Linked DNA regions of Homo sapiens. The protein of the gene in region 2 purifies or fractionates together with the protein of the main gene of each other region. This does not show direct contact. Each region holds a gene or a part of one and is shown on either strand. Other genes may lie near its edges.

The links. Proteins that work in one complex are often made in the same cells at the same time.
Region 1: the proteins of CLTA (region 2) and GTSE1 purify together in Homo sapiens (affinity purification with mass spectrometry; 2 studies listed by BioGRID and IntAct, with this or other methods). This does not show direct contact.
Region 3: the proteins of CLTA (region 2) and CLTCL1 purify together in Homo sapiens (co-immunoprecipitation; 3 studies listed by BioGRID and IntAct, with this or other methods). This does not show direct contact.

The regions. Positions count from the first base shown.
Region 1 is NC_000022.11:46,313,866-46,320,889, reverse strand, and holds part of GTSE1 (G2 and S phase-expressed protein 1), read right to left. Parts: intron 7,001-7,024; coding exon 6,877-7,000; intron 4,859-6,876; coding exon 4,478-4,858; intron 4,380-4,477; exon of another isoform or gene 3,027-4,379; intron 1-3,026. UniProt on the Homo sapiens protein: May be involved in p53-induced cell cycle arrest in G2/M phase by interfering with microtubule rearrangements that are required to enter mitosis. Overexpression delays G2/M phase progression.
Region 2 is NC_000009.12:36,200,901-36,207,924, reverse strand, and holds part of CLTA (clathrin light chain A), read right to left. Parts: intron 3,858-7,024; coding exon 3,746-3,857; intron 3,205-3,745; exon of another isoform or gene 1-3,204. UniProt on the Homo sapiens protein: Clathrin is the major protein of the polyhedral coat of coated pits and vesicles.
Region 3 is NC_000022.11:19,218,700-19,225,723, forward strand, and holds part of CLTCL1 (clathrin heavy chain 2), read right to left. Parts: intron 6,935-7,024; coding exon 6,754-6,934; intron 5,356-6,753; coding exon 5,192-5,355; intron 4,111-5,191; coding exon 3,985-4,110; intron 3,395-3,984; coding exon 3,252-3,394; intron 2,913-3,251; coding exon 2,678-2,912; intron 1,309-2,677; coding exon 1,186-1,308; intron 1-1,185. UniProt on the Homo sapiens protein: Clathrin is the major protein of the polyhedral coat of coated pits and vesicles. Two different adapter protein complexes link the clathrin lattice either to the plasma membrane or to the trans-Golgi network.

The sequences.
Region 1 (7,024 bases), on a different chromosome or scaffold from region 2:
GAACAAGCCATCTCCTGACACCCTCACGACTGCCCTAGGGCTGCCTGAGCACGCACGCCTCCCAGGCCCACATCAGCTCTTCCCTAAACCTGGACGGCGCGTCTCCACTGCAGCTCCCAGTACCGGGGAGGCAAAGCCCACAGCCAGAATTCCAAGTCTCAATCCTCTGGGTGACCCGGCAGCATGGACTCATAGTAAATAGCAACATTTGTAACTGGACTGTTTTACAAAGAATGCTGCTTGCCTCGAGTATTTTGAGAAAGTGCACATATGAAAGCCTCCACTACAGGGCACCGTTCATGTGGTCCCACGCTGTGAGTGCCCTCAGCCCTCACCTCTCCTCCACGGTGACAGCTGGTGTCACAGCCAATGAGCAACACCACCAGTGCTCTCAGCCAAAAAGTGCACACCACCACGTGCCTCCCAGAGCTGTGTGTTCCCAACAGCGTGGCTGCTCCCCTGGGGCCTCTCTTCCGGCCAGTGCTGAGTTTGTGGGACCAGTTTTGACCCTGATGAATGACCAAAGGCGTGCAAGAGACAGTCCTGTTCCCAGCATTGTGGAGAGAGGAGGAACCGCCTGCCGAAGGTGAAATGCACATCTGAGAGGTGCGTAAGGAGACCGCAGGGACACGCTCTGGGAAACAGGGCAAAGCCAACAGGGATTTGGGATTAGCAGAAGTCCTGTGGCATCAAGCAGCCCGACAGCCAGGAGACCAGCCAACACTTGTGCCAACGTGGTCAGGAGAGACATGGCAGACGCATGTCCTGGCTCCAGGCATTCAGGCAGAAGGGAAGCAAACACTACTGAACACACCTCCACATGACCTGGGCCGTAGGGTGTCCCTGCAGAACCCACCCAATCACAGCTCGCATTTCTTTTCTTTCTTTCTTTCTTTTTTTTTTTTTTGAGACAGTCTCGTTCTGTCGCCCAGGCTGGAGTGCAGTGACACCATCTCGGCTCACTACAACCTCTGCCTCCTGGCTCAAGTGATTCTCCTGCCTCAGCTTCCCAAGTAGCTGGGATTACAGGCATGCGCCACCATGCCTGGCTAATTTTTCTATTTTTAGTAGAGACAGGGTTTCACCATGTTGACCAGGCTGCTCTCGAACTCCTGACCTCAGGTGATCTGCTCACCTCGGCCTCCCAAAGTGCTAGGATTACAGGAGTTAGCCACCGTGCCCAGCTCACAGCTCCCATCTCTACAAACTCAGCTCTCTGCTGTTGAAACCTACACTGAGGTCTCCAGCTGTGGCTTCTCCTCTGAGCTCTCAGCCTGCTCCACCCCTCAGCTGCAGCCTAAGTGGCCTCTCACCCTCACTACTTCCAAAATGGGGCCGTGGACTCTGCCCGCTGCCTCTTCCAGCCCTCCTGTCACATGAGTGGCAGCACCCAGGTTCCGCCAGAACCTCAGGGACACTCGAGTCCCTCTCTGCACTGCCACATGAGCCCTAAGCTACCAGAACGTCAGGCAGACCGCAGCGCTCCAGCCTCCTTCCCCAGCACTAGCTTCCTCCCCAACACAGTGAGGGCCAGGTCCGCATTACCCTCCCCACCACTCTTCGGCCCAGAGACTCTGCTCTTCCCTCTGTGGAGGGACCTTCTGAAGGTCAAGTCGCTCTGCTCTGATCTCTCCTATGCACGTCCTCCTGCACTGACGGTACTCCAGGGTCCGCTCTGGTCACGCGGCGCTCTGGGAGCCGGCCTCGGGCTGCCCCTCCATCTTCATCTCTTCTTACCCTGCCCCTCGGTCACTGACTGGCTGAGGTTGCTAGTTTTTGTTCAACAGCAACTTTCCTCTTCTCAGTAAGAAATTTCAGCTGTGTGCGGAATAAAGACAACGTGTCCTAGCATCCTGTGCAGGGAAGCGTCGTACTCAATGGGACACAAACGGAGTCACAGGGACAACTTGCAGTGAGGGTCCTTGAAAGGTGGGGATTTGCTCTTCTTCACCTAGAAGAAGGCTTCCTGCCGGGAGGTATGAGGGCCAGAGCCGGTGCAGCCACACTAGACCATGAGGATGAGAAGCTCATCACGGCAGCACAGGATGGAGTAAGCCTGGGTCCCTGACACCAAGGAGTACTGACCAGCTGTCGCACGTCTACGCAGAATCCCGACCGCAGCGGCTGCACTCCCACCCTCCGGCCCCCATGCTGCTCCCAGAGCACGTCCCACGCCTTCCTGCCCCAGGACCTCTGCACTCCTGCCGTTGCCTCTGCCTGGAGTGCTCCCCCTTGCACTTTCCTACCGGCTGCCTCAGTCTCCTGGTTCAGATCTCAGTCCCGTGTCACCTCCTGACCATCTTTGCCAAAGAACCACCCGATGCAAATTCCTCCCCAAACATGCCAGCTCCAGGACACCATCTTCCCTTAGTCCCTTTGTTGTGCTAGGATCTGCAGGCCTGCTCATCTGATAACATTTCGTATCTTTTCCTATTAAACAGAAATTCTGTGAGAGTAGGTCTGTCTTATCATGATGTCCCTTGTCCCCCAAAGCATTCCAGCACAGAGAAGACACTCAGCAGAACAGCTTGTTCCTACAGCAGGACTCAGAATGCAGTTTCTGGGAGTTGCAGGCTGCCTGTGCTGGCCGGCACTGCCAGAACTTAAAATCCTCAAGCACCCAGAGGGCAGATCTGCCTGACAGAGGAGGCCAGGACGCTCCTCTCACCTTAAGTCAGCTCTGAGAACTTTCTGCATTGCACACAATTGTTCAAGAAATTCATGAAAACTTTACAAACACCCACCCACTAATGGCCAGACACCTGCTGGGGCCAGTGGCCTCACTGACTGGAGAAGGCAGTGGCTGGAGCTCAGGAGGCTGAGGTGGCTGCAATCTGAGGGCCAGAAACTAGAGAGGAGGGGGCTACTCCGACAGAACGAGCTCTAGGAACCCAAGGGAATCTCGAGTCTCTGGCTGAGCACCAGGCAGTGCACAGGTGCAGGGCAGGAGTCCTCAAGGTCAAGAGAAGAGCAACTACCAGGGAGCAACGAGCGGAGCTCACAGGGCCGAGAAACCGCCGTCTTACCAGGGAGCAACGAGCGGAGCTCACAGGGCCGAGAAGGTGTCATCTTGCAGCAGCAGGAGTGCAGGGGTCTCGCGGGCCTTGCGGGACACACGGGTGTGCAGCAGAGGCCTTGGGAAGGACGCCGGTGGCGGGAGGCGGAAAGGCTATGCTAGACCCACCACTTCAAAGCATAAAAAGCCTCGGAAGGATGATCTGCACCTTAACTGCCTGCCAAGCCCAACCCAACTCCTCAGAGAAAGACAACAAAATCCAGACATTCAAAAGTGTACACCTGACAATATCCAACAACCAAGAAAAACTTGTGAAAAATGTAGAGGCAGGAAAATGAGGCCAAAACCCGGAAACAAAATTAGTCAGTCGAAACAGACCCCAAAATGATGGGGAAGATGGTATGAGAAGAATCGTAGACCCTAAAACCATTATCAATTTGCTCACGAGGATGTAAAAGAAAACCCAAGTACCATGAGAAGAAATAAGGGGAAACTATTATGTTAGAAACAAAGTTAACTGGATGGGCTTCACAGCTGTTAGGCACTGCAGAAGAAATGATATCTGACAACAGAAACTACCCAAACTGTAGCTCAAGGAAAAAGGCTGGGCCGGGCACGGTGGCTCACACCTATAATCCCAGCAGTTTGAGAGGCCGAGATGGGTGGGTCACTTGAGGTCAGGAGTTCCAGACCAGCCTGGCCAACATGGCGAAACCCCGTCTCTACCAAAAATACAAAAAAAAAATTAGCCGGGTGTGGTGGTGGGCACCTGTAATCCCAGCTACTCGGGAGGCTGAGGCAGGAGAATTGCTTGAACTCGGTAGGTGGAGGTTACAGTGCGCTGAGATCGCGCCACTGCATTCCACCCTGGGTGACAGAGCGAGACTCCGTCTCAAAAAACAAAAAACAAAAAAAAAGAAAGAAAGAAAAGAAAAAAGATAAGAAAAAGAAAAAAGGCTGAAATAAAAAAAAGAACAGAGCTTCGGTGTCCTGTGAGACAACGTCAAGAGGCCTGAAATAGATGTGATTAGAGTCCTAGGAAATAAAGTGGAAAGAGGAAAAGATAGCTGAAGAAATAATGGCCAACGTTTTCCAAATTTGCTGAAAAAAACCAACCCACAGATCAAAGAAGCTTAAGAAACCCTCAGCGGGATAAAGGCAAAGAAAGCCACCTCAAAGCACATAATAATCAAATTCCCGACAGTAACACTAAAGAGAAAACCTTACAAGCAGCCTACGAGCATTGGGGTGTCACACACACAGGAACGAACGTAAGACATTCAGGGAGCCTCCAGTGACCCCCCAAAACAACGTGGGCGAGAAGACAGCGGGTCACACCTGAAAGCACTGTTGGAGGAAAGAACTAAAAACACCATCAATGCCATCAATAATTGTTTAAAACTTTAAATGCAATTTCTTCAGTATTTTTTAAAGACACATTAAAATGTATCTATTACTCACCAATAGAAAACTTAGGAATTTTAAATTGATTTGTAGGAGTAGGCATAACCTTTGTCTTGGAATTTAGACAGGAATCTCGCCGTCTGATACTTCTAGTCTTATTCAATTGAGAAGATTCTGACCAAGCGCAACTGGAGTTCAGCCACTGGCCGCCACCTTCCGGAGTCTGGGGTTGGGTGGGGGATGCTGAGGGGGGTGCCGTGAGCTGCTCCGCTGCCAGCTCAGAAACATCGACCCGCTTGGCCTGCCAGGAGGATGCCCCCACAGGGCCTGCAGGCAGAGCTGGCCGCAGCATGGCGGGTCCCATTCTGCCTGACTTGCTGATGTTTGACAGAGGCCGGGAGCTATTTGCAGGAATACTTGCAAATTCACTTGATTTAGCTAGAAGGTATACACACAAAAATCACATTATTATAAAAGTATGAAGCTATTTAACAAACACACAGAAGTTATGCTGTCTTTAGCATATCTACCTTAAACATAAGACACATTAACAATATTCTATAAGCCCTTCAGGCAACATCATCAAACACAGGATGGCTCAGGCAGCTTTTAGCTTAGCTGAGTGTATTCTAAGGTACTTATTCTCAAAATAATTACTAACATGTACATAAGCATGCATAAATTCAAGCTCTCCTATCTTCGTTGATTATGTTGGCAGGAGAAATCTACATTAGTTGAGCAGATGGAAGGGGATAGTCTAGTCACATGTCTCACCTGTCTGGTCACAGAGGTGGGCAGGGAACAAGGAAAAAAGACGCAATTGTTACTGGTTGATTCCTTTAAAATTACAAGGAGGCTGCGTCATATTAACCATAAGCACTATTTAAAATAGAAGACCAGATAAACTAGGGTAATACATACTGAGCTACCAATATACGCAGACGATCTGGTAAAGGATTCTTAAAGAAAAACTTTAGCCCAGGAGTGGTGGCTCACGCCTGTAATCCAAACACTTTGGGAGGCCAAGGCAAGAGATCACTCAAGGCCAGGAGTTCGAGACCAGCCTGGCTAATATAGTGAGACCATCCTCTCTACAAAAAACACAAAAATGTGGGCCAGGCGCAGTGGCTCGTGCCTGTAATCCTAGCACTTTGGGAGGCCAAGGCGGGCGGATCACGAGGTCAAGAGATCGAGACCATCCTAGCCAACATGGTGAAACCCCGTCACTACTAAAAATACAAAAATTAGCCGGGCGTGGTGGCAGGTGCCTGTAGTCCCAGCTACTTGGGAGGCTGAGGCAGGAGAATCACTCGAACCCGGGAGGCAGAGGTTGTAGTGAGCCAAGATTGCGCCACTGCACTCCAACCTGGCAATAGAGTGAGACTCCATCTCAAAAAAAAAAAACCCACAAAAATTAGCCGGGTGTGGTGGCATGTGCCTGTAGTCCCAGCTACTCAGGAGGCTGAGGTGGGAGGATTGCTTGATCTCAGGAGGTCATCACCTCAGTCTATAAAGATAAGGACACAAACCTCTCTTAATCACAGAATGGCAGAGTCAGAATTCCAGATCAGATCAATCTGATTAGAGAGTTCACACTTATCATTTTTTTTTTTTTTTTTGAGACGGAGTGCAGTGATGCAATCTCGGCTCATGGTAACCTCTGCCTCCCGCGTTCAAGCCATTCTCGTGGCCCAGTCTCCCGAGTAGCTGGGACTACAGGCACCCGCCACCATGCCCGGCTAGTTTTTGTGTTTTTAGTAGAGACAGGGTTTCACCATGTTGGCCAGGCTGGTCTCAAACTCCAGGGGTCAAGCGATCCACCCATCTTGGCCTGCCAAAGTGCTGGGATCACAGGCGTGAGCCCCTGCGCCCGGCCCACTTTTTACATTTTGTGAACACAATCCACACCATGCTGCCCTGAACGACCCCGAGACGCCACATGGCCAATGCACCTCGAAGAGGATTTCGCTCTGAAGAGCAGAAAGGCGAAGGCTTTCCCTTACCACTAGATGGCAGCTGTGGCTTGGCAAGGTTGAAATGTGGCTTGACCTCAAACAGGTGTGGGAGCATGGATTTAAACAGGCACCCAGGAGTTATGGGGCCATATGCCCTACATTATCTGGAATAGTCCTATTTTAAAACTGGTGTCTCATGACATGGACATGAGGGTGATTCCAGTGTCCATGTTCTCAGGCACGGGGTATCATACATGCTTTCTGGCCATGTGTACCCCGTAGACTGAAGCCACCCATCTGAGTGTGCCCTCCTCATGGGACAGAGGCACTGAGGGCAGGTACAGCAACTCAGTCCACAGCCTGGTCCACCGCACACAGCACGCCCTCCGGGACGTCCTGCCAAGCCTAAGTGGTTCTGCAGAAACAGTCTCCAAGGCCTGAGCAGCACTCCAGGCCTCACCTGGCCAGATGTGGGTCCAAGCATGATGCCGGCTGCCTCACCTTTGCCCACTGCTGGGGATGTGCACGCACTGGATGCCCCGCTCCAAACAGGCCCCGAGGAGGACTTCCTTGCGAGATTGCTGGTAGAGCCGGGTGCTTTTAACAGGGTCTTCTTCAGCCCCAACTGGGGCAAAATGTGAAAAAACAG
Region 2 (7,024 bases):
GTGGGCAGAATGAGTGGGAGGAAAAGGCAAGGCAGGCTGGCTTATAAACCCATAACCCTTTTAGTTTACACAAAGGACTAAACCTGATCGATTTCAACTTGGGTTTCCCTCCACAAGAAGAGTAGAGGTTTCATGACTCCTGTCAAATCATCACTAAGACAACAAAAGTTTGAATGTCAGGCTCTTGCTCCTTTGCAGCTAGCCCAAGACCAAAGAGCTCCTCAGTGACAAGCACATCCCCTGTCAAGGTTGCAGGCCCAGAACAAACAGAAAATCAGACACACACACAGGTGGCCCTCCCCTTATTTGTCCTTCACTTGAAAGTAGCAATCCTCAGCCAAGGCAGGAAGGGGCTCAGGGAGGCTTAGGAGAGGGGAGGGAAGAGGAATACCTGACCTAGGACAAGCTCTGGAGGCACGAATACAATGCAGAACTTCATTCCATAAACAGCCTCAAAGTGGGCACAGAAAAAAATGTTTGCCATCTCTGAGAACTGTGGGTTCCCCAAACCTTCTCAAGCCTTGAAAGAGCTGACAAGCACAAGTGCTACCTGTAATAGGGGAAATGTTCTGGGGTTGTTCTTGATGAGCAAACTCATCCAGCTGCAGGAGTCAGTCACTGCTCTGGCTGGCTGGCTATGAAAAGGAAATTCTTTTCCATGGCTGTCACTGAATAATTCACAGCTCTTGTACTGTGACACTTAGGCCTCAACTTGGGATAAAAGAAGGGAGATGCAGTCTGGGGACTGACAATAGAGTACAGCACACCCACCCCCAGTGCAGTGCCAGGCGCGACGTGCTCCTAGTGCTTTGGTGACCCAGTGGTGAGGCAGCTGGAAGGCAGGAGGCCTGAGGATGCTCTCACAATTAACTGGATGCCCTTCCTGTCTCCGACTTTCCTCTTTCAAACTTCTCATCTTTCTGCCTTATCTCTCGGGTCCCCTTAACATCTAGCTACTGCAGAAGTCACCCAGAGAGAATCATACTTGCTTGAAATGAGCACCCCGTTTTCTTTTTTCTTTTCTTTTTTTCAGACTGAGTCTCGCTCTGTTGCCCAGGCTGGAGTGCAGTGGCGCAATCTCAGCTCACTGCAACCTCTGCCTCCCGGGTTCTAGTGATTCTCCTGCCTCAGACTCCCGAGTTGCTGGGATTACAGGCACACACCACCACACCCAGTTAATTTTCGCATTTTTAGTAGAGATGGGGTTTCACCATGTTGGGCAGGCTGGTCTCAAACTCCTGACCTCAAGTGATCTGCCCGCCTCAGCCTCCCAATGTGCTGGAATTACAGATGTTGAGTCACGGTGTCCGGCCCCCATTTTCTTTTCTAAAAATATTCACTCTTTACCCATAGACAGATAACAAGGATGAATTACTTTATACATCTAAATGGGACCTATTCCTTTGAACTCTAAAGTTTAGAGTCAAACATGGATGGAGAGGGGGAGTAGTCAGCAATATAAAAATCTCCAGGGGAGGGTGTAGACCCTTGGAAGAAGTCCCCCAAAGTGACTCTCAAATGGATCCCACCTCCAACCAGTGAAGAATCACTGGAATAAACTGTAAAAACCATCTCTTCTGTCCTAGAGCCCTGGTGACAATGGCTAGTGTGCCACTAGCGTTATGCTCTCAAGAGTCAGCCCTGTGCTGCAAGGTTCCCACAAGGCAAGTGACCTGCTTCCTAAGCAGCTCTACATTCTCAGTGAGCAGTGGGGAAGTTCCTTCTCTCTGGAACTTAAGAGGTTCATCTGTGAGACCAGCTTACCCAGCATTCTACAGTTCCAAGTACAGAAAGGTACCAAGGCCCAAATTCAATGCCTGGAGGGACTAAACTTTTAAGACTGAGCTCCTAAAAACAGGTGTCATGGCCAGGCGCGGTGGCTCACGCCTGTAATCCCAGCACTTTGGGAGGCCAAGGAAGGCAGATCACGAGGTCAGGAGATCGAGACCATCCTGGCTAACACAGTGAAACCTTGTTTCTACTAAAAACAGAAAAAAATTAGCTGGGCATGGTGGCGGGCACCTGTAGTCCCAGCTACTCGGGAGGCTGAGGCAGGAGAATGGCGTGAATCCAGGAGGTGGAGCTTGCAGTGAGCCGAGATCGCACCACCGCACTCCAGCCTGGGCAACAGAGCAAGACTCCATCTCAAAAAAAAAAAAAAAAAAAAAACAGGTGTCATTACTCCCTCTGAGAACAACGGATTCTGTATACAGAGAATATCCCTTTCTTGACAGTTCAGCAAAACTTCCTTGAAAAAAATTTCTGCAACAGAAAGGCTGTTACCAACATATTCATTATCTAAGTTTGAAAACTTGTGTTAAGTTATTGACGCATCACAGACCCAGAGCGGGGAGGGTCGGCACAGCTACAGTACTTCAGACTAAACTTAAATGCTGGGGTCGCAGGCTGGGGGAGTTCTCAGGGCTCGCAGGGTGCTTGCACACAGTCCCCACTCGGCTTTACCGATCTGAACTTCCACCTGGGAGAAAATCATCTTGAGGGAGCAGAGGACACAGGAGCCTGGACCTGTCAGCACCACCTACTGACCACAGGCTCAACAACAGCCCCACGTAGCTGATGGAAGCCATCACCACTGGCAACCCAGCCTGCACACCAGAGAGCAGTCCTGTGGGACTGGGACTGTGGAGTCCTGTGGACTCCACATGGAACCTGACAGGCACTCCTTGAGCACACCGCCCCCAGAGGAAAGTGACCAGGACACAGGCTCAAGCCGGAATCCAATGAGCTGAAGGGCTGCTAGCATATAAAAGAGAGTCCAACTGCTCTGTCATACTGGACCCACAATAGCACTGGCTGGCTGGCAAAGCCGTTAGCTCTCTCTCCTGCCACATCTCTGTCTAACAGAGCTGCCAGAGACAAGGGCACTTAACCCAACCTGCTTCCTGCCTCTGCATACGAGAACCCAAGGCTCTACCCTGAAAATTAAAAATATCCCCAGGCTCGGTCTGGCCCGTTTATACACTGAAGTGAATGGATTGACTATTCAGTGAAAGTTGGGCTCTGAACCTGCCTGCCCTGAGGGAAGCAACACCACATATCCTCTCTTTGCTGCTTCCAAGAAGGGCTCTAAGTGTAGGGCATTAAAGCCCAGCTGCTGGTGAGTAGTGATATGAGAATGAAAGCGTTTTTCTCCTCACAACTCCTTAACCATCAGTAACTAAATAAAATCTATTTCAAACAGAACATTTTTAAGAAGTCAATTCAAGACTTTTTAAGGCACAAATAAGTACCCACAGAACCCTCAATTCTAAAATAATCATGTTGGAACATCCTTGGCTGCCTAATTACAAAGCACATATTCCTGCCAACGGACCCCTTCATGAAGTGGCTTTCAGGGGGCAGGGCTATATTGAGGAGACTCAACATGACCAAGTCTATAATCATATCCAAAGTAACTAGATCTGGGTGTATTCATGACACCCAGCTTTCGTTTCAGGGTTCCATGGAAAGTAACTTTTCCCTTGGCTGAATCACACCATTACAGGTTATGCATATTAACCAAACTCTCAGAGAGCTAAGCTCACTACAATTGGGATGGCTAAACAATAGGGTGAATTATGCTCACAAGACCCGAGAGACTTGCAACCTGTTTCAAGCACTTTCTTTAAAAACTGCAGACATTTCACACTAAAGGAGGCAGAAGCCAAAAACCGAGACTGGATGCTGAGAATGGATTTGATTCAATTTTGGAAAACAAAGTGTGCTACAACCACCACGGACTGACCTGTTGTTTGCTTTTGTTTTCTGTAGCTGCTCGTCCTGTCTTGCATACCATTCTTCTAGCTCCTTTATTGCCTTTTCTTTCCACTCTGCTTCTTGCTTCCGAGAATTGGCATCTTTGAAGGGAGAGAAGAGAAAGACAATACAATTGAGGCAAAGTGCAAACTGAAGTTCATCAGTTTATTTTGGTCTTGCTGAACTTGTGGTGGGTGCAGGTCCATGTCTGTGTGCCTGTTGGGGGAGAAGAGTAGAGAGGGGAAGATAAACTTCTGTTTTCTCTGTTTGCACAACCAACTCTGATTTCAGTGCTTCTATTCCTGCCTGGTCTTTCCCACAGTCCTATTCCTGGTCTTATCCCAGTCCACTGACATCTTAGTGGGTCATTAGTTTTGTTTTGTCTTGTTTTGGGCAGAGCAAAAGAGAAGGGTGTATGTGGAAATACTGACTTCTATTATTAATAGGAAAAAAGCCTTCTGGGCACCAATTGGGGGAGAAACAATTATAGATGATTCTTTACCAATGCTGCCAATATTAGTTCATAGTAGGGTATTCATCTTAATCTTTTACCTCTTCTCCCAAACTAGTCCATATTCCAGGTTTGACAATGGTTTTGTGGAACACAAGGTGGCACTCTCATAACTAAATATGGTAGAAGCACTTCTGTGAGGCAGGGTGCTATTAGGACAATTACCAAAGGTAGAGATGATTCAGGAACCAGAGAATGATAGAACACAGAATATTAGCACTAGAGAGGACCACAAAGCATCTACTCCTACTTGGTCTGCAGTGTGTTTGTGGCAGAGCCAGGGCAGAGCTACAAAAGAAACTCCACTGGAGAGAAGTGCAGGGGGTAGAGGTATGGGATCATTGCTAACAGTTAACCTAAAGGTTCTAGAAATGACAGCAAGAAAATGCATACCTAGCAGGTTTGCTAGATTGGATTCTCAAACATGAAACATGAAGTTTCTGAGGACTAAATATGGTTTTCTCTAAGACACTAAGCTGAAGAGACATACATCAGTAGATAGTGAGAGATAAAGAAATACATGCCGGCTGCTTGTGGTGGCTCACGCCTGTAATCCCAACACTTTGGGAGGCCGAGGCAGGTGGATCATCTGAGGTTAGGAGTTCGAGACCAGCCTGGCCAACATGGTAAAATCCCGTCTCTACTAAAAATACAAAAAATTAGCTGGATGTGGTGGTGCATGCCTATAATCCCAGCTACTGGGGATTACTGGGGAGGCTGAGGCAGGAGAATCGCTTGAATCTGGGAGGCAGAGGTTGCAGTGAGCTGAGATCGCACCACTGCACTCCAGCCTAGGCAACAAAGTGAGACTCTGTCTCAAAAAAGAAAAAAAAAAAAAAGAAATACATGTCATAGCTACTGAGGCAGCTGACACTTGAAGTTAACCTGATACTTCACTTTAAACAAGTTCTTCTGTCTGGCAGGTGTTTTATAGACATCTAACTCAATCTTTACAACAATCCCAAGAAGGTAAACTCTGATCACATTTTCAGCAGTGAGAAAAACTAAAGCTCAGAAAGTTTGAGTGAATTTCCTAAAGGTTATAGTAAGTGACAGAGCCAAGATTCAAACCCAGATCTGGCTGTAAAGCTTACACTTTGCTTACCTCATTATGCTTCCTCCAAAGGGAGGGACAGAAAGGGAGGCAAGCCTAGAAATAATCACAAAACGTGACCACCAGTGATCTGGACAGAGTTTTGAAAGTGCAGACCAAGAGCCCAAACTGTAATTAGTGTCTTTGAGAAGGAGAGTAGATAGCAGTAGCGGTGTCAAGTAACTACTAGAAGGGATGAAAAATGAAGTATTCTTGGGCATTTTTAGGGCCTTTGCAAGAAAGGTCTTATAGTAACAACCTGCAAAAGGCTGTGTGTAACTATAAGAAAAAGCCTAATAGCAGCTAGAAACTCCCCCAAGTTTCAGGTTAGTAGGAACGTTCATCTCGGTATCTAATTTGTCGGAAGGTGATCTGTCGTTCAGAAGAATCATTTTCTCAGATTTTTCACTGATGACTCTAAAGTATATACAGTAAACTTTTTTTTGTTTTATTTGAGATAGGGTCTCGCTCTGTAGCCCAGGCTGTACTGCAGTAGTTCTATCACAGCTCACTGCAGCCTCAATCTCCCAGGCTCAAGTGATCCTCCCACCTCAATCTCCTAAGCAGCTGGGACCACAAGCGTGCACCACAACCCCCAGCTAATTTTTTTTTTTTAGTAGAGATAGGGTCTCACTATGGTGCCCAGGCTGGTCTTGAACTCCTGAGCTCAAGTGATCCTCCCACCTCAGCCTCCTAAAGTGCTGGGATTACAGACCTGAGCCACACCACCTAGCCTCTACAGTAAACATCTAATATGTGTCTATCCATGGCATGAAGTACAGATGTGGAATGCAAGATTTAGCTATGCTGCAATGAGAAGCTGTGGGCTGGAAGTGCCATGTGACAATACCTAATTCAAAATGTAAGGCCCCCTTTTCAATCATGGTGAAATTACTTCCAAATAATTACCTTTTTGATTGGACAGTATTTTCTTTCAATGTATTTTGATGTTAACATTTACTATACATTAGGACTAAAATATAAAATTTATCTCTGAAAAATGAAATTAAATAAAAATGGTGACCTCCTGAACAGACTGTGGTTACTGCATAAAATAGTACATTTAAATTGGTCTTCTGGCTTTTGCAGCTTTAGTGCCACTGCAATACTAATTTAGAATTCTTCCCCTCAGAGGATGAAGAGGAAGAGTCCCCTTAGAGAGCAAAGCACATTCACAGGTGCCTTCCCTTCTGGCCACCCTCGTTACTGGTCAGAGAAAAGAAAATTACTTGAGAATGTAGCCAGCAGCTAGGCTGAAAACCACTGGCACCGGTTCTCTATTTTTAGCATCGCGTGCTTTCTCACAGTTTTTGCAAGGAAAAAAGGTGAAATTGAAGGAACACCTTGTTCATGAACCAAGTGAATTCAATTCAGTTGGAATGCAAGGCCAAATGTTGTACTTCTCTCAAAAAAAGCACTTTGAATTAAGAAAACAGCTCATAAGAGTATTCCCCAAGTACCCAATTTCATAATTGAAAAATTAAATCTTTCCAGACACCAAAGTAGACTCTCTCCATGGAGAAGAAAAACTGCTAGAGCTTGGTAAAACAGAAAAGATAAATTTGGGTTCTGTAACATGAAAAATACTACAGCAGTACTAAGACCAGCTAAATCTTGCCTCTAAGCATACTCAAGAGACACAAAGAACAAGCAAGGACCAAAGC
Region 3 (7,024 bases), on a different chromosome or scaffold from region 2:
GTGCTGAGGGCAGCAGAGGCACTATCTGCAAATGTCTGTGAGGCTATAACTGGAGAGGAGGCTCTTCCACAGGGCTGTGGGAAGCCCTCCCAGAGGCCGAGGCAGACTCCCACCTGCCAGGCCATACCCAATAATGACCCCTGGCCCCAGCACTCTGCCCAGTCTCCAAGGAGGTGCTGGATAGTCACAGGGGCATAAAGAGCACCTCAACAAAGGGAAGTCAGCTGAGACAACCTTGAAAGCTACTTCACCTCTGTCCACGAGGGCTGAGCTGGGCCCAGCATGCAGGCATGACACCAGGTACTCTCTTCCTGGGCTGCATATCCCTGCTTTGGATCCAAGGGCCAACTCTATGCCCTTGGCCAGTTAACAGTTCCAAGTCAGCTTACCCTGGGGAATCAAGCTATTTTTAGGCAAGCTATTTCTGCAGGGGAGAAGGTTCGTAAGGACTAAGATGTTTTATTTATTTATTTATTTATTTATTTATTTATTTATTTAATTTTTTTGAGACAGAGTCTCACCCAGTTGCCCAGGCTGGAGTGCAGTGGCGTGCAGTCTCGGCTTTCTGCAACCTCCACCTCCTGGGTTCAAGCGATTCTCCTGCTTCAGCCTCCTGAGTAGCTGGGATTACAAGCATGCGCCACACAGTGTGTTTTCGTATTTTTAGTAGAGATGGGGTTTCACTATGTTGGCCAGGCTGGACTTGAACTCCTGACCTCAAGTCATCCACCCGCCTCGGCCTCCCAAAGTGCTAGGATTACAGGCGTGAGCCACCATGCCTGGCCTATTTATTTATTTTTTTGAGATGGAGTCTCTGTCTGTCGCCCAGGCTGGAGTGCAGTGGCACGATGTCGGCTCACTGCAACCTCCACCCCCTGGGTTCAAGCAATTCTCCTGCCTCAGCCTCCCAAGTAGCTGGGATTACAGGCGTGTGCCACCATGTGCGGCTAATTTTTGTATTTTTAGTGGAGATGGGGTTTCACCACGTTGGCCAGGCTGGTCTTGAATTCCTGAGACCTCAAGTGATCCACCCACCTCCGCCTCCCAAATTGCTGGCATTACAGGCGTGAGCCACTGCCCTCAGCCAAGATGTTTTAAATTAAAAATGAAACCAGTCACTTGAGCCACAATGATGATCGGACGGCAAAATGCAGGTGTGCAGACATACCCATCTCTGTGCCTCACCTGGTCAATTAGCTGTCTCCTGGATGGGTTGGTCTCCTCAAGGACGTGAGCCCAGAGCTCCGGATCCTTTCTGCATACCAGGTAGCGGGCCTCGCTTTTGAACAGAGAATTCTCATTGCACACCTGAAATGAGCACACTCATGTGTGTGACACAGCAGCCAACCAGCGGAAGCTGCTTGGGAGGACACACCCCAATTCGTTCCCTGTGTGCCTGATACTGGTTTGGTGGACAGTCAGGGCCCAGGCAAGACGCTATGCTTTGACATGGGATGAGCAGCATCCTACAGGGTTAACGATGGACTCAAACTACCTCAAAATGCCCTTTCCAAGTTTACAACAACTCCCAGGGATGTGCCACATATCTGGCCAGTAGGACTTCCTGCATTCAGGGACATGCTCTGTCTCCCATTCTGTCTGATACAGCCACTAGCCATGGGAGGCTACTGAGCCCTTGAAATGTGGTGCGTGACAGGAACTAAACTGGTAATTTTTAATTTAGTTAAATTTAAGTACTCATATGTAGCTAGCTTTAAACCATCTGTAAAATGTTATCAGAACAGCCTAGAACTGGTATAAAACAGCACAAACACTGCAATGTTTCAAGATCTAAAAACTGTAAACTGTGCTTTCACTGGTAGATCTGGAGACCTTTTTCTGAATGTTATAACAGATCTCCAAAACACCAACAGTCCACTGGAATGTTCTAGCGTGTGCAGCACTTGCTAAATCCTGGTGAGGATCAGATCTGTTGAGTGCCAGATGCCCGGCACAAGGCTGAGCGGCGTGCACACGTGCTTGCGGATGCAGCGCAGTCCGCCTGTGTATCACAGGAAAAGCCCAAGCAGGCTGGTGTGGCACCAACCTCACAGGTGCCCTATTCATGTCTGGATTTTTAGATCAAATGATTAGGTAGGAACAGTTCATACAATTCAACCTAAACATGTAATTATATGTGGATCCAAGCCTGGGCAGATGCAGGCAAAAGACCTGGGCAGATGTCTCAAGGAGAGGCCAGCAAGAGCTCATTGGTCAGGTGATGGGGAAGGGCTTGTGTAGAGGGTTACCCCAAAAAGGGGGCATGAAGTACAAGGGTACTCGGGACATGAGGCACCCAGGGAATTGCAGGCCTCTCCAGGTGGGGTGGCAAGATGGATGGCTGATCAAGTTCGGGAGTTGGGAAAGGTGGCAGTCCACAGAGGAGCTCACGAGTCAGGCCAAGGAGTTCAATTCTGCCCTCAAATTGCCAGGCAATAGTAAGGACTGTAAGCAGAGGGATGATAAGTCAGGTTCAGGACCAACTGGTCTACAGGTACAATGCATACAAATTGCATGAGCAAGTTCCCAAAAGCTGTGAGAATCACAAGGAAATAATCTCATGACCTGCCATCTCCAGGTGCACAGAAAGCCCTGATCAGCTCCCCACAGGCACACCTTTGAAAGCTTCCCTGGGAGCCCAGGGTTACATGGGCAGCTCAGCACATCTGCTACCCACCTTGATGAGCTCAAGGTCACACTGCCCCCGCTCATAGGCAACACAGGCCAGATGGGGGTCTCGCTTCTCACAGTAGCGGCCCACCACGCTGCTGTCATAGTAGGCATTCTCTCTCAGGAAGCACTCGGGGCTGTTGTTGCTGTCGATGTAGATTTTAGCCAGTGCATTGTGAGTGGCAGGCTCCTCACAGCCTTCCTGAATCTGGGACTCCAGCCAGGGAAGCAGCAGCTTGAGCCTTTGAAAGAAGGAAGGTGCTGTAAAGTCTCAAGGCTACCACTGGAAGTCTTGAGGGCAACTCCAGGGCTCTGACAGATGTTTCCTGAAACAAAAAATCTCAGAGTCCATTGACTTCAGGTTGCTCTAGGGACCAAGATGGACCTGGTTTCCAAACTGATTTCTACTGTTAGGTTTTCCCCCAAGGTCTTCACAGTACCAATAGCAAGTAACTCATTGCTACATCTAAGATGTGTACATGAACGACCAGCTATAGAGACAGTCCTGGAGAATTAGACAGAAACAACAACAGACACTAGAATCCAGGGGTAAGAGAAAACACCAAGTAAGGACACCTTACCTATTTCTTTTTTCTACTTCAGCCACCAACTCATCAGTAGAGAACTGTCCTCTCACTGCCATGATTAAGTGTTTAATCACTTCCTCAGAACAATCCACATCAAGCAGCCCTCCAATCACAGCTGGGGTCCGGCTAGGGTTGACCTAGGGTAGTCAAGGTCAAGTAACTTCAGTGTTGCAAACACAAGTTATTGTTAGAAGCCTCCTACGACGTGGACAGTTTGGGCAAAACCCTGAAAGGGCTCCTGTTTAGCACTGCGCTGTGTCCCACCAAAATTCACCTGCTGATGTCCTAACCCCTAGTGGGATTCTACTTGGAAAGAGGGTGTTTAAGAAGGTAATCAATGTCAAGGGTGGGGCCCTAATGTAATGGGACTAGTGTCCTTCTAAGAAGAGGAAGAGACACCAGGAGTGCACATGCACAGAGGAAAGGCCCTGTGAGGGCACAGCCAGGAGGCTGTCTGCAAGCGTGGGAGACAGCCTTCACCAGAAACCAGCCCTGCCGACACCCTGATCATGGACTTCCAGCTTCCAAAACTGTGAGAAATAAATGTGTGTTGTTTCAGCTGCCTGGACTGTGGTCTTCTACTCTGGCAGTCTGAGCACACGAACCCACCACCCTTCAAAATGATAGTCTCTGAAATGTCAGGTGTTACAGGCAGCCTCTGAGGGGAAGACTGCCACTGACTGGGGCCCAGAGGCAGCCGGGTGTCACTCCAGGGAGCCAGCAGTACCTTCTGCACGTAGATCTCAATGTACCTCTGCAGGTTGTTGCGGTATAAATATAGGACAAGGTCATGGACAAAGCCAAAACGATCACACACGATGATGAGGGGAAGCTGGTCTGTGAGCTTGGCCTCCTGAGGATTAGAATGCACAGAACAAGTCAGGGAGTGGAGAAACCAGACAGCCAGACCTCGGACTCATTGCACACATGGGACGGCTCTGTCTCTGCAGCAGAGTGACACACAGGAGACTCAGAATGAGACTGCTCTAAATAGGCTGTCGTTTTGTGGTATGGCATTTGCTTTGGGAAATAAGTGAGAGAAAGATATTAGTATTTGGTTAAAGACTGCTACATTTGGCATTAACATTCCAAATCTGGACAAAAATATCTTTTAAGACAAGCAGCTCATTATGTGCAAACCCAACAGAAACCAGGCCATTCTCAAGAACAGCACACCTGCGGTAAGGGCTGCCTTTTCAGACACGCAGCCGCAGGCCATGGAAACACACCCGGCCACCATTCCCAGATGATGATGGCACTTGGGTAGGACAGCCACAGGCCACCACAATCATGCCTCCCCTCATGTGGTCCCGTGCCTAGATCACATTTTGAAGTTTTAAGTGTGGCCACATGACCTCATTTCCTCCAATGGAACGTGAATCCAAGTGTCATCTGCCACTTGCAGGCCTCGCCCATAAAAACCACCTATGCTGGTTCCTCTGTGCTCTTCCCTTCCTCTAGCTGACTGGGAAGACGACATCCAGGTGAGGTGCTGAACACGGCAAAGCAGCCATGAAGCTGGTCCTTGAAGTACAGTGGGAAGGAAAGTCACCCCACTGACCTCCAGCCTACCCTGGACTGCCACATAAGGAAGTAGGCTTCCTGTTCTTTATGACACTAGTGCTGAGTGGTCTACTTGTTTCTGCAGCTTTGCCTGCCTAATTGACAATGGCACTAATGGGATGTTGATGAATTACAATGCAGCAATAAGTGCCAGATACTTAGAGCACAGCCTCAAGCTGCTTTCCACACTCTTAAAACGATAGAAGGGTTACTTTAGAACTTTAAGCCATAAAGTGGAGCTCTGTCCCTGGGACTAAGGGGTCCCTGGCGAGACAGATCCAGCTTCCTGCCCCTGGGACGTCCTGCGGATGGTCTGCCCCACCTGCCATCAGCAAGGGCAGCTCATGGAAGGAGGCAGCACTGGAACACACCTTCAGGAAGTTCTTCACACGCTCTGGGTTGTAGCAGCTGCTCTCTCGGCATATCCTCTCCACCTCCTTGATCTGCCCTGTCTTACAGGCAGCCTGAATGTATTTCAGATGCACATCTGGGTCTTGGCTGAAGTTCACGATTGAGCCCAGGAAGTAGAAGAGGCCTATGAAGAGAGACCATTCCATTTTTGTCCTTGTAACACCTGCCTGTCTCCTCCGTAGCTGCTGCCCACCTTCCCTCGATGACCCTGCTCCACTCTCCAGGGACCCACAGCACACTCAGAACTCATAATCAATATGCCATTTGTCTGTTTTGGCAGCTCCCAAAAATAGCTAGTCGGATTTCCATTATATTTGGCAGGTATACCTGGCATGTTTTGATGTAAAATACTAGATATTTGGTACAAGTGAAATTCCTTTTGTGGGCCCAGGTATACCTAGATAGTCGTCATCAAGAGTAATTCCCACTGAGGTAATCTGAAATGGTGGTGGGACTGCTTCTCTAAAAAGACACATCAAGGGACAGAGAAATAAGCCATGGCCTCCAGGAGGAGGCCTGCAACTCAACACAGAGCTGACAGTGACATGGGCACCACATGCTGAGCCCCAGGGTGAGCCCCAGAGGACAGCATTCACAGAGGCTAATGATGTTCCTCATCATTACAGAGGCCAGCCAGGAGGCACCAGTAACAACAGGGTACGACACATCTGAGAAGGCCCCTCCCTGTCGAGGTCTTTCACTGTAACTGTGAGACCCTGATGCTAGGAAGGGAATGGGCAGCCCCTGGGCTGACGGTTCTCCACCAACCTACTCTACTGCCCTCTCCCAGCCCAGCTCCACTCAATCGTCTGCCATGGTCTTTCCTACAGGGGTGTCTTCTAAAGAGAAGGCCAGTTCCCTGAGGACAGGGTCATGTCCCACCCTCCACCGATGCCCCAACCTCACTGGACACATGGCAGTGGCTTGATGCCTAGACAAATGCTTAGTCTCTATCCTGGGTGGGCCAGACAGCCCCCATCTGTCCCTAACAAAGCCACTCCCATCCCAACTGCCCTAGAACACTTTTTTGGTGTGATGTCCAAGAAGGGGAAAGGAAGACAACCAGGTTACCTTGTCAGCCCCCCACAATCAACTGGGTAGCAGACACCACAAAGCAATGCACCCTCTATCGTGGGCTCTCATTTAGGAGAGGCCCAAAGAGCCTCCCTCCTGGGGCTGTAAAGACCAGACATCAGGCCCTTTCACTGTACCCACGACACAGGCTTTTAGATGAATTCTTGCCAGACTGTGCTGCGTAGACACACCGGGCTCCATAAGTTTCTCCATCCCATCACCAACCAACCTGATTTCTTCCTTTGGAAATACCAAAAAGGTTACTGAAGCTGAGGGTGCACATGAGATGGCAGTAGCATTCTGCCACCGACTGAGCACCCAAGGCAGCCAGTGCTGCATCCTGCCTGGCTTTGCAGGAAGGCCGTCTTAAGGCGGGCAGGTAGGCAGCAACACCTGAGAAAGGAGGTGTAGTCACATGGTGGGGTCGGCGAGAGGCTGCATGGTTTACCTTTGTAACTCTTGAAGGATTCAAAGAGCTCCACCAGGGCCTGCGTGCCCAGCTGCTCGTGGTACTTAGAGGCCACCTGCACACACAGCTGAAGGTTCTGTCTGATGTTAGCAGACAGCATGGCATGCAGACACTCCACAGAATCCTCCACCGATAAGGAGCCAAAGAAATTGACAAGCCACTGGGAACAAGGAAGAGTCTGTCCACAACGATGCACCACTCTAAAGATTGCTAACACTTGGAAAATAACTAGGTCATTCTCCTGTTCCCC